Homo sapiens: one gene and its partners. The protein of the gene in region 3 purifies or fractionates together with the protein of the main gene of each other region. This does not show direct contact. Each region holds a gene or a part of one and is shown on either strand. Other genes may lie near its edges. The genes, in order: RAB3IP, PJA2 and BBS4.

Region 1 (3,654 bases), on a different chromosome or scaffold from region 3:
TCAATGACTCTCTTTGCAAGCTATCCTACTGGGCTTTATTTTCTAAGTCATTTCATTTTCTTTTTCTTTTTCTCTTTTTCTCTTTTTTCTTTTTTTTTTTTTTTTTTTTTTTGAGACGGAGTCTCCCTCTGTTGCCTAGGCTGGAGTGCAGTGGCGCAATCTCAGCTCACTGCAAGCTCCACCTCCTGGGTTCACGCCAGTCTCCTGCCTCAGCCTCCCAAGCAGCTGGGACTACAGGCGTCTGCCACCACACCTGGCTAATTTTTTGTATTTTTAGTAGAGAAGCGGTTTCACCGTGTTAGCCAGGATGGTCTCGATCTCCTAACCTGGTGATCTGCCCGCCTCGGCCTCCCAAAGTGCTGGGACTACAGGCGTGAGCCACTTCGCCCAGCTCATTTTCTTTTAAGAAAAATAAAAGTTTAAAATAACCTCTTACAGCAGATTTCACCTTTTAGTGAATGTAAGAATCAACAAGTTTGATGAAAATGCATATTCCCAAACCTCAACACAATAATTTGATTTCAGCAGATCTGGAGTAGAGTGCAAGGATCTATACTTAATAAGAATGCACTAAAGCCCAATTTCCTCCTGAGAATTCCACTAAAAGCTGCTCTTCAGAAATATCCTATGGAAGGCCAAACAGCTAAATGACTACATCATAATCTCTGGCATCCCTGCACCTGAAAATAAGTGACCACATGATTGGTCCCCCTACACACACAGTATGGATTTGTTGCTGGGAAGTGGTTGTCCATCCAGGGATTACATTACCCAGCCCACCATACATCTAGGTATTGGCATGAAAGGTTCACACCAATAGAATGTGAGCAAAAGTGATGTGTATCATATCTAAGCCAAGGTTTTTTAGAAGAAGCTGTACCTTCTCTAAGCTGTCTTTCCCTTTTGTCTCATTGGTTAGATACAAATAACAATAAAACCCTAAGAAATTACAAAGGCCCCAAACAGAAGAGAAACAGATCTCTGAATTATTTCACAGAGAACTGCCTACCAACTATGAACATCTGCTTCAGAGTGTTAAATGAATAAAAATGAACTTCTATTAGGTAAAGTCACGAAAATTTGGGGGTTACTTATAAGCATCACCCTAATATATCAGGCATGTGTGTATACAAACACTTGTATAACCGCATATACATGTATATATTCATTTAATCAACAAAATGTATTGAAAACCCATTATATGCTCAAGATATAATCATGAGCACAAACATATGCAATCCTTATCCTCATGAATCTCAGAAGTACTGAAGCATGTGTGTATAAATGCAGGTTTTTCTATGTGGATTACTTGAATGGGGTAGACAATGAAGTAATATAAATGAGTAAGTAGAACTTTCACTTCCAATTAAGATAGAGGAACAGGGATTAGATTTACCACCCATCTGACACAACTAAAACTCTGAAAAAATATATGGATCAACAATTTGAAGCATTTGATATTAGGCAATAAAAGACAGTGATCCCCTAGAAATGAAAAACAAAATGTGCACCCCAGATCTGCCCCAGCTTATTATCTGAAGAGATGAAATAATTAGAAACAAAACATTTATTAAACTGCATCCCAACATATTAAGCAGAGCAAGCAAAGTATAAAAAAGATCCAAATCAAACTTTCAGAGATGAAAACTACAATGTCTAGTTTAAAAACATACTGTATGGGATTAACAGATTAGATATTTCAGAAGAAAAGAGTAGTGACTTTGAAGACATAGCAATAGAAACTACCCACAATGAAACACAGTGAGGAAAAAAAGATTTTTAAATGAAAGACTGTAACACCAGCAAGCTGTGAGATAAGTTTAAGCAGTCTAATGTACATGTAATAGGAATCCAGAGGAAAGGAGAGAGAGAGGAAGAATGGAAAACTTTTTGAAGATATAAAGGCCAAAATTTCCCAAATTTTATGAAAACTAACAACCTACAGCTTCAAGAAGCTCAATAAATCCCAAACATAAGAAAGCTGAAGAAACTACACCAAAGCAAATCACAATCACATTGCTTATGCCAGTGAGAGAGGACTCTCATAAGCAGCCAGAGAGAAAAGACCTAATACGCAGAGGAACAAAGGTAAGGGTAACAGCAGACTTCTTGTGAGAAACAATGTACATGCTTGAAAACACTGAAGCAACATCTTTACAGTAACAAAAAAAAAAAAATTATCAATCTTAAATTCTTTACTCAGTGAAAATATCTTTCAAAAACCAAAAATGAACACAGACATACAAAAGCTAAAAGAATTTATCACCATCAAACATGCACAACAAAAATGTAAAAGGATGTCCTTCAAGCCAAAGGAAAAATGATACGAGTTGGAAATCTGGATCCACATGAAGAAATGAATACCAAAGGAATGAACACACAGAGCAAGTCCCCAAACGGATCCTGAGCAAGAGGAGAGTTGGAGGCTCTCCCTCTCCCTCTCCCTCTCCCCACAGTCTCCCTCTCCCTCTCCCCACGGTCTCCCTCGCCCTCTCTTTCCACGGTCTCCCTCTGATGCCGAGCCAAAGCTGGACTGTACTGCTGCCATCTTGGCTCACTGCAACCTCCCTGCCTGATTCTCCTGCCTCAGCCTGCCGAGTGCCTGCTATTGCAGGCGCACGCCGCCACGCCTGACTGGTTTTCGTATTTTTTTGGTGGAGACGGGGTTTCGCTGTGTTGGCCGGGCTGGTCTCCAGCTCCTAACCGTGAGTGATCCGCCAGCCTCGGCCTCCCGAGGTGCCGGGATTGCAGACGGAGTCTCATTCACTCAGGGCTCAATGTTGCCCAGGCTGGAGTGCAGTGGCATGATCTCGGCTAGCTACAACCTCCACCTCCCAGCCGCCTGCCTTGGCCTCCCAAAGTGACGAGATTGCAGCCTCTGCCCGGCCGCCACCCCGTCTGGGAAGTGAGGAGCGTCTCTGCCCGGCCACCCATCGTCTGAGATGTGGGGAGCGCCTCTGTCCAGCCGCGACCCCGTCTGGGAGGTGAGGAGCGTCTCTGCCCGGCAGCCCCGTCTGAGAAGTGAGGAGCCCCTCCGCCCGGCAGCCGCCCCGTCCGGGAGGGAGGTGGGAGGTCAGCCCCCGCCCGGCCAGCCGCCCCATCCGGGAGGGAGGTGGGGGGTCAGCCCCCGCCCGGCAGCCGCCCCGTCCGGGAGGGAGGTGGGGGGTCAGCCCCTGCCCGGCCAGCCGCCCCGTCCGGGAGGTGGGGGTTCAGCCCCCGCCCAGCCAGCCGCCCCGTCCAGGAGGGAGGTGGGGGGCGCCTCCGCCCGGCCGCCGCCCCGTCCGGGAGGTCGGAGGCGCCTCTGCCCGGCCGCCCCTTCTGGGAAGTGAGGAGCTCCTCTGCCCGGCCACCACCCCGTCTGGGAGGTGTACCCAACAGCTCATTGAGAACGGGCCATGATGACGATGGCGGTTTTGTGGAATAGAAAAGGGGGAAAGGTGGGGAAAAGATAGAGAAATCAGATTGTTGCTGTGTCTGTGTAGAAAGAAGTAGACATAGGAGACTTCATTTTGTTCTGTACTAAGAAAAATTCTTCTGCCTTGGGATGCTGTTGATCTATGACCTTACCCCCAACCCTGTGCTCTCTGAAACATGTGCTGTGTCCACTCAGGGTTAAATGGATTAAGGGCGGTGCAAGATGTGCTTTGTTAAACA
Region 2 (3,654 bases), on a different chromosome or scaffold from region 3:
TTGGACTTATCCTTTGAAGCCTTCCAGCAAAGAAAACTCTAGGACCAGAAGAGTTCACATGCAAACTCTAAAAAAAATTGTAAAACAAATAATACTAATCCTAATAAATTCTTTTTCAAAAATATAAGAAACACTTTGCAACTCTATGAAACCAGCATTATATGAAAAAGTATCTTTCATGAACATAGATGCAAAAAAAAAAAAAATTTCACCAATTTATAAAAATGATAGTAGATAATACACCATCACCAAGTGAGGTTTAACCACAGAATGGAAGATGATTCAACATTCGCAAATAAGTTAACGTAATTCATCACATTAACACAGAAACAAACCATATGATCATCTCAATAAATACAGTAATAATACCTGACTAAAATCAACATCCACTCATGATTTAAAAAAAAAAAAAAAAAAAACTCTCTGCCAGGCGCAGTGGCTCATGCCTGTAATCCCAACACTTTGGGGGGCCAAGGCGGGCAGATCACGAGGTGAGGAGTTCAAGACCAGCCTGGCCAACATGGTAAAACCCCATTTCTACAAAAATACAAAAAAGTTAGCCAGGCTTGGTGGCGTGTACCTGTAATCCCAGCTACTCAGGGGGCTGAGGCAGAAGAATCACTTGAACCCAGGAGGCGGAGGCTGTAGTGAGCTGAGATGGTGCCACTGCCCTCCAGCCTGGGCAACAGAGCAAGACTCCATCTCAAAAACAACAACAACAACAACAACAACAACAAAAACCTCTCAGCAATCCAAGAATAGAATGGGAACATCCTCAATATGATAAAAGGCCACTTGTCTTAGTCCATTAGGACTCCTATAACAAGCTCCCATAGACTGAAGTGGCTTATAAACAACAGAAATTTATTTCTCGGCTGGGCGCGGTGGCTCACACCTGTAATTCCAGCACTTTGGGAGGCCAAGGCAGGTGGATTACCTGAGGTAAGGAGTTTGAGACCAGCCTGGCCAACATGGTAAAACCCCGTCTCTACTAAAAATACAAAAATTAGCCAGGCATGGTGACATACGCCTGTAATCCCAGCTACTCGGGAGGCTGAGGCAGAATTGCTTGAGCCTGGGAGACCGAGGTTGCAGCGAGCTGAGACTGCCACTGCACTCCAGCCTAGCCGACAGAGCAAGACTCTGTCAAAAAAAAATAGAAATAAAAATAAAAGAAATTTATTTTTCACAGTTCTGGAGGCTGGGAAGTCCAAAATCAAGGTGCTGGTAGATTCAGCGTTTGGTGAGAGCCACTTCCTGGTTCACAGACTGCAGTTTTTTCACTGTGTTCTCATACGGCATAAGGGGATAGGAGCTCTCTGGGACCTCTTTTATAAGCACACGAATCCATTAATGAAGGCAGAAGCTTCATGACCTAATCACCTCCTTGAGATCCCCCTCACAATGGGGATTATGTTTCAATGCTATGAATTTTGGAAGGGACATAAGCATTCAAGCTATAGCACCACTCTATCACACTCAATAATGAAAGATTCAAAGCTTTCTTCTTAAGATCAGGAACAGAGAAGGATATCTGCTTTCACCACTGCTATTCAACATCATAATGGAGGTCTTAGCCAGTCTAAGAAGAAGAAAAGGTGGAAGGAGTTACATATAAATTCAAAAATAATAAAACTGATCTATATTTGCAAATAACATGATTGTCTACATAGGACAATTCCAGAGAATCTACAAAAAATTTACTCAAATGAATGAATTTAGCAAGGTTGCAAGCATCAAGGTCCATATGCAAAAACCAACTGTATTTTTACATATAGCAGTGAATAACTGGAAACTAAAATTTAAGAAAATTATCACTTATAATGGTATCAATTATTAAATACTTAGATATAAATCCAACAAAATGAGCAACATCTTCATGCTGCAACTACAAAATGCTGACAAAGGAAATGAAAGAAGACCTACATAAATGGAGACAACCTGTATTCATGAATTGGAAGACTCAAGATGTCGATTCTTCCTAAATTGATCTATGCATTCGACACAAACCAAATTAAAATCCCTTCAGGTCTTTTTGTAGAAACCAACACGCAGCCTCTAAAAGCTTTACGGTAAAGTTAGAATAGCCAAGGCAATTTTGAAAAAGAATAAAGTTCAAGGATTCATATTACCTAATTTCAATACTTATAAGTAAAAATAACCATGATAACTCAGTACTGGCAAAATTATAGGCATAAAGATCAAGAGAAAAGTACAGGAACAGATTTACATATATGATCAACTGACTTTTGACAAAGTTAATTCAATGGGGAAAGGAAAGTAGTCCCAACAAATGGTGCTAGAACTACATATACATTTGAAAAGAAAATGAGCCTTGACCCTTACTACACACCATATACAAAAACTAACCCAAAATGGATAATGTGCCTTGACATGAAAGCCAAAACTAGAAAACTTATAGAAAAATCCTAAGAGTAAATCTGCACAACTTTGCATTAAGCAAAGAGTTCTTAGAACACAGAAGCACAAATCATAAGAAAAAGTTGGTAAGATGAATTTATCAAAATTAAAAGCTCTTCTTTTAAAGTTAGGAAAATAAAAAAAAAACAAGCTTCAGATTGCAGTGTGTGTGTGTGTTTATGTATCTCTGTGTGTCAAATGAGTTGTATAAAGAATGTATTAAAAAATGCTTACAACTCAATAAGACAAACCCATTTTTTTTTTTTTTTTTTTTTGAGACGGAGTCTCGCTCTGTCGCCCAGGCTGGAGTGCAGTGGCACGATCTTGGCTCACTGCGAGCTCCACCTCCCGGGTTCACGCCATTATCCTAACTCAGCCGGAGTAGCTGGCACTACAGGTATCCGCCACCACGCCCGGCTAATTTTTTGTATTTTTAGTAGAGATGGGGCTTCACCGTGTTAGCCAGGATGGTCTGGATCTCCTGACCTCGTGATCCGCCTGCCTCGGACTCCCAAAGTGCTGGGATTACAGGCGTGAGCCACCGCGCCAGGCCCACCCATTGTTGTTTGTTTGTTTTTTAATGAGCAAAAAATGTCAACAGATACTTCACAAAGGAAGACATACACTAGAGCAAATTCTCAGCACCATTAGTCATCTGGTAAATGCAAATCAAAATCCCAGTATGATACTACTATATACCCACTAAAAGGGCTAAAATTTAAAAGACTGAAATAACCAAGTGCTGAGGATGATGTGGAGCAATTGGAACTGTCATACACTGCTGATGGATATGTAAAATGTGACAACCACTCTGGAAAACAGTTTGGCAGTTTCTTATAAACATCCATGTATCATACAACCCAACAAGTTCCATGTCTAGGTATTTACCAAGAAAAAAAAGATGTTCACAAAAATTCAAAATAAATGAATGTTCATTGAATAAAGGAATGTTCAACAAATGAAGGCTATTTATTAATAACAGCCCCAAACTGGAAACAATCCAAGTATCTGTAAATAGGTGGAATGGTCAACAAACTAGTAAATCAATACCAAGGACTTCTATTCAGCAATAAAATGAGAACCCGTTAAATACAGAAAAACATGGATAATCCTGAAAAACATGCCAAGAGAAAAAGCCAGATACAAAAGAGTATGTATTACATCATTCCACTTACATGAAATTCTAGACAAAATGATACCAATTTATAGCAAGAAAAAGATGATAAGTGCTTT
Region 3 (3,654 bases):
CCATGGTGTACATTTAAATAAAAGGTAGATGTGAAGTGGGGTATATTATGTGATCTTAATTTCATAACACAAAGGAAAACATATAGATCCGTAGATAAGGATATATGGATATGGAGGAGAGAAAAGGAAAAGACTCAAAACTCACAGAATTTTTGAAGAAATGTATAGCTAAAAATCTAAGAAGGCTACAGTCAAGGCCTTGAGGCCAGAAGACACCCCATCAAAACTGAGTAAAACTAGCCCAGTGTGGGACGCAGAAATTCTAGTATGCTACCAAAATTACTTACGGATTGCTACCAGTTCCTTAGAAGGAAAACTGAGGACTAATATTTGTATTTTCAGTATAGTTTAGAATTCTTAAAAAATGAGCAAACAGGCTGTACTTGGTGGCTCATGCCTGTAATGCCAGGACTTGTGGAAACTGAGGTGAGAGGATAACTTGAGTCCAGAGGTTTGAGACCAGTCTGGGCAACATGTTGGAGCCCCATTTCTACAAAAAACACAAAAATTAGCCAGACGTGGTGGCACGCGCCTGTCTTCCCAGCTACTGGGGAGGATCATCTGAGCCTGGGGGAAGTTGAGGCTCCAGTGAGCCATGATCATGCCACTGGACTCCAGCAGGGGCAGAGTGAGACTTTGTCTGAAAAAAACAAAAAATGAATGAGCAACTAACTCTGGCTTTCATGATTTGTGCTTATAAATCTTTTTATTTATTTATTTATTTATTTATTTATTTATTTATTTATTTATTTTGAGACGGAGTCTTGCTCTGTCGCCCAGGCTGGAGCGCAGTGGCGCGATCTCGGCTCACTGCAACCTCCGCCTCCCGGGTTCACGCCATTCTCCAGCCTGAGCCTCCGGAGTAGCTGGGACTACAGGCGCCTGCCACCACGCCCAGCTAATTTTTTGTATTTTTAGTAGAGACGGGGTTTCACCGTGTTAGCCAGGATGGTTTCAATCTCCTGACCTTGTGATCCGCCCGACTCAGCCTCCCAAAGTGCTGGGATTACAGGCGAGCCACTGTACCCAGCCTATAAATTTTTTTTATAATGCCCTGATTCCCATTATTTGATGTATTTGGATAAATATGTCATCCTGTAAATTGAAGGATTAAACTGATAAGAGCAGAAAACAGAAATTAGTACACTAGTTGATCTGGCTCAGATATAGTGCCTATGTATCAGGTGCTCCATGAATATTTGTTGGATGAATAAATGATCATAAAACTATATAAAAATGAAGAAATAACAGAATAAAATAATTTGTTCTATATAAATCCTATGAATGAGATTGAGTGGGCTAATAGAATCCTTTCCATCTCAAAATGTTCTGGAAAGTCTTGAGTAAAAGACTCATCAAAAAAATAATTCTGCTTTGTGCAGAAAGAAGGGTTGCTGACCTTTGAAGGTGCTTTTTGAGTCTTTAACATTCTTTAGTAGTATATTCCCCAAAGTTAAGAAATTCTAGTTAGATTTTAAAAAATTGAGTTAACATTTAAAAAACAGTTTTGTTGAGGTATAATACACGTACCATAAAATTTACTCAATTTAAGTACAAAGTTTGATCAGTTTTAGTAAATTTATATAGTTGCACAGCTGTCATCAGAGGCTGCTTTTAAAACATGTCCATCACTCCAGAAGGGTTCCTGTGTCAATGGAATTGCTGGGTTATATTGTTTAAGTATTTGTTTAAAAAAACAGAAACAAATCTGCCTAACTTCTGCAGGCTATATACGAGTTAACATTTCCATGAGCAATGCATGAGGGTTGTGATTTTTCCACATCCCTGTCAACACTTGGTTTGTCAGTTTGTTTTTATTTAGCTGTTGTAGTGGATGGGTAGTGATGGTGTATGGTGGTTTTAATTTGTATTTCCTTCATGAATAATGATATTGAAGATTTTTTATATGTTTATTTTCCACCCGTATCTCTTTGGTGAAATGTCTTTATAAATTTTTGTGAATTTTTAAATCAAGATCATTAACCAAATGAGCCCCTCATTTGGGCTCAAGTGATCCTTCCACCTCAACCTCCCGAGTAGCTGGGACCACAGGTGCAGGCCACGCTTGGCTAATTTTTGTATATTTTGTAGAGGCGGGGTTTTGCCATGTTGCCCAGGCTGGTCTTAAACTCCTGAACTCAAGCAATTGGCCTGCCTCACATAAGTATTCTCTTTTATTTTGAGGATTAATTTTTGTTGTTGTGAAATATATCCTACCTGTAAAAGAGTGCTTAAAATGTCGTATGTGTGCTTTAAAGGATAATATAATGGAAACTTGTGTTCCTACTGCCCAGGTTAGGAAATGGGTTATTAATAACTTTGAAACCTCCTAAATGCCTCTCTCCTACTGCATTTTCCTTCCTCCACATCAGATGTAGTGTTTCTTCAATTTTATATTAATATTTTGTACTTTTTATAGTTTTACCATATATGTTTATATATATCCTTAATATATTAGTTTTTAAAATTTGTTATTAACCTTCAGTTTATTCATTATTTCAACACTGTATAGTATCTTATTGTAGTAAAGTATGTCAATTAACTTATCCATTCCACTAGATGGAGATCGGGATTATTTCTGGTTTTTAGTTATTAAAAACAATGCTGCTGCTGGGTGCAGTGGCTTACGCCTGTAATCCTAGCACTTTGGGAGGCCGAGGCTGCGGATCATGAGGTCAAGAGATCGAGATCATCCTGGCCAACATGGTGCAACTCCGTCTCTACTAAAAATACAAAAATTAGCAGGATGCGGTGCTGCGCGCCTGTAGTCCCTGCTACTCGGGAGGCTGAGGCGGGAGAATCACTTGAACCCAGGAGGCGGAGGTTGCAGTGAGCCGAGATTGTGCCACTGCACTTCAGCTTGGCAGAGCGAGACTTCGTCTCAAAAAAAAAAAAAAAAAAAGCTGCTATAAATATGGCCAAGACTAAGGAAAGGTAAGTGAGGTGCTTAGGGTTCACATTTTATGGAGTAAGAGTAAGTACCTTCTTAAGGTTTATACCCTAGGTTCTTCACATGCCTCACTTTAGTCCTAGCCCTGAGCATTATTATGTAGGTCTTCTGATGCAATATCTAAGAGTTTCTCTAAGGTATACCTAGAAATAGATTGCTAGGTAATGGAGTAACTTTATTACTTACAGGAAACTATATGGTGGTTGTAACAATTTATGCTTCTGCCACCAGTCATGGTGGATATGAAATTATGTCTTAATGTGATAATTTACATTGCAATTTTTTTTTTTTTTTTTTTTTTTTTTTTTGAGACAGAGTCTTGCTCTGTCACCCAGGCTGGAGTGCAGTGGCGTGATCTTGGCTCACTGCAACCTCTGCCTCCTGGGCTCAAGTGATCCTTCCACCTCAGCCTCCCGAGTAGCTGAGACCACAGGCGCAGGCCACACTTGGCTAATTTTTGTATATTCTGTAGAGGCGGGGTTTCGTCATGTTACCCAGGCTGGTCTTAAACTCCTGAACTCAAGCAATCGGCCTGCCTCAGCCTACCGAAGTGCTGGGATTAGAGGTGTGAGCCACCACACCTGGCTGTTTGTTTGTTTTGAGCCTGTTCCTCAGGCTGGAGTGCAGTGGTCCAATCATGGCTTGCTGCAACTCCGCTTCCTGGGCTTAAGAGATCCTCCCACCTCAGCCTTCTGAGTAGCTAG

The links.
Region 1: the proteins of BBS4 (region 3) and RAB3IP purify together in Homo sapiens (co-immunoprecipitation; one study listed by IntAct). This does not show direct contact.
Region 2: the proteins of BBS4 (region 3) and PJA2 purify together in Homo sapiens (affinity purification with western blotting, with the first as the bait; one study listed by BioGRID). This does not show direct contact.

What each region holds. Positions count from the first base shown.
Region 1 is NC_000012.12:69,759,215-69,762,868, reverse strand, and holds part of RAB3IP (rab-3A-interacting protein isoform alpha 1), read right to left. Parts: intron 1-3,654. UniProt on the Homo sapiens protein: Guanine nucleotide exchange factor (GEF) which may activate RAB8A and RAB8B. Promotes the exchange of GDP to GTP, converting inactive GDP-bound Rab proteins into their active GTP-bound form.
Region 2 is NC_000005.10:109,403,366-109,407,019, forward strand, and holds part of PJA2 (E3 ubiquitin-protein ligase Praja-2), read right to left. Parts: intron 1-3,654.
Region 3 is NC_000015.10:72,689,076-72,692,729, forward strand, and holds part of BBS4 (BBSome complex member BBS4), read left to right. Parts: intron 1-3,654.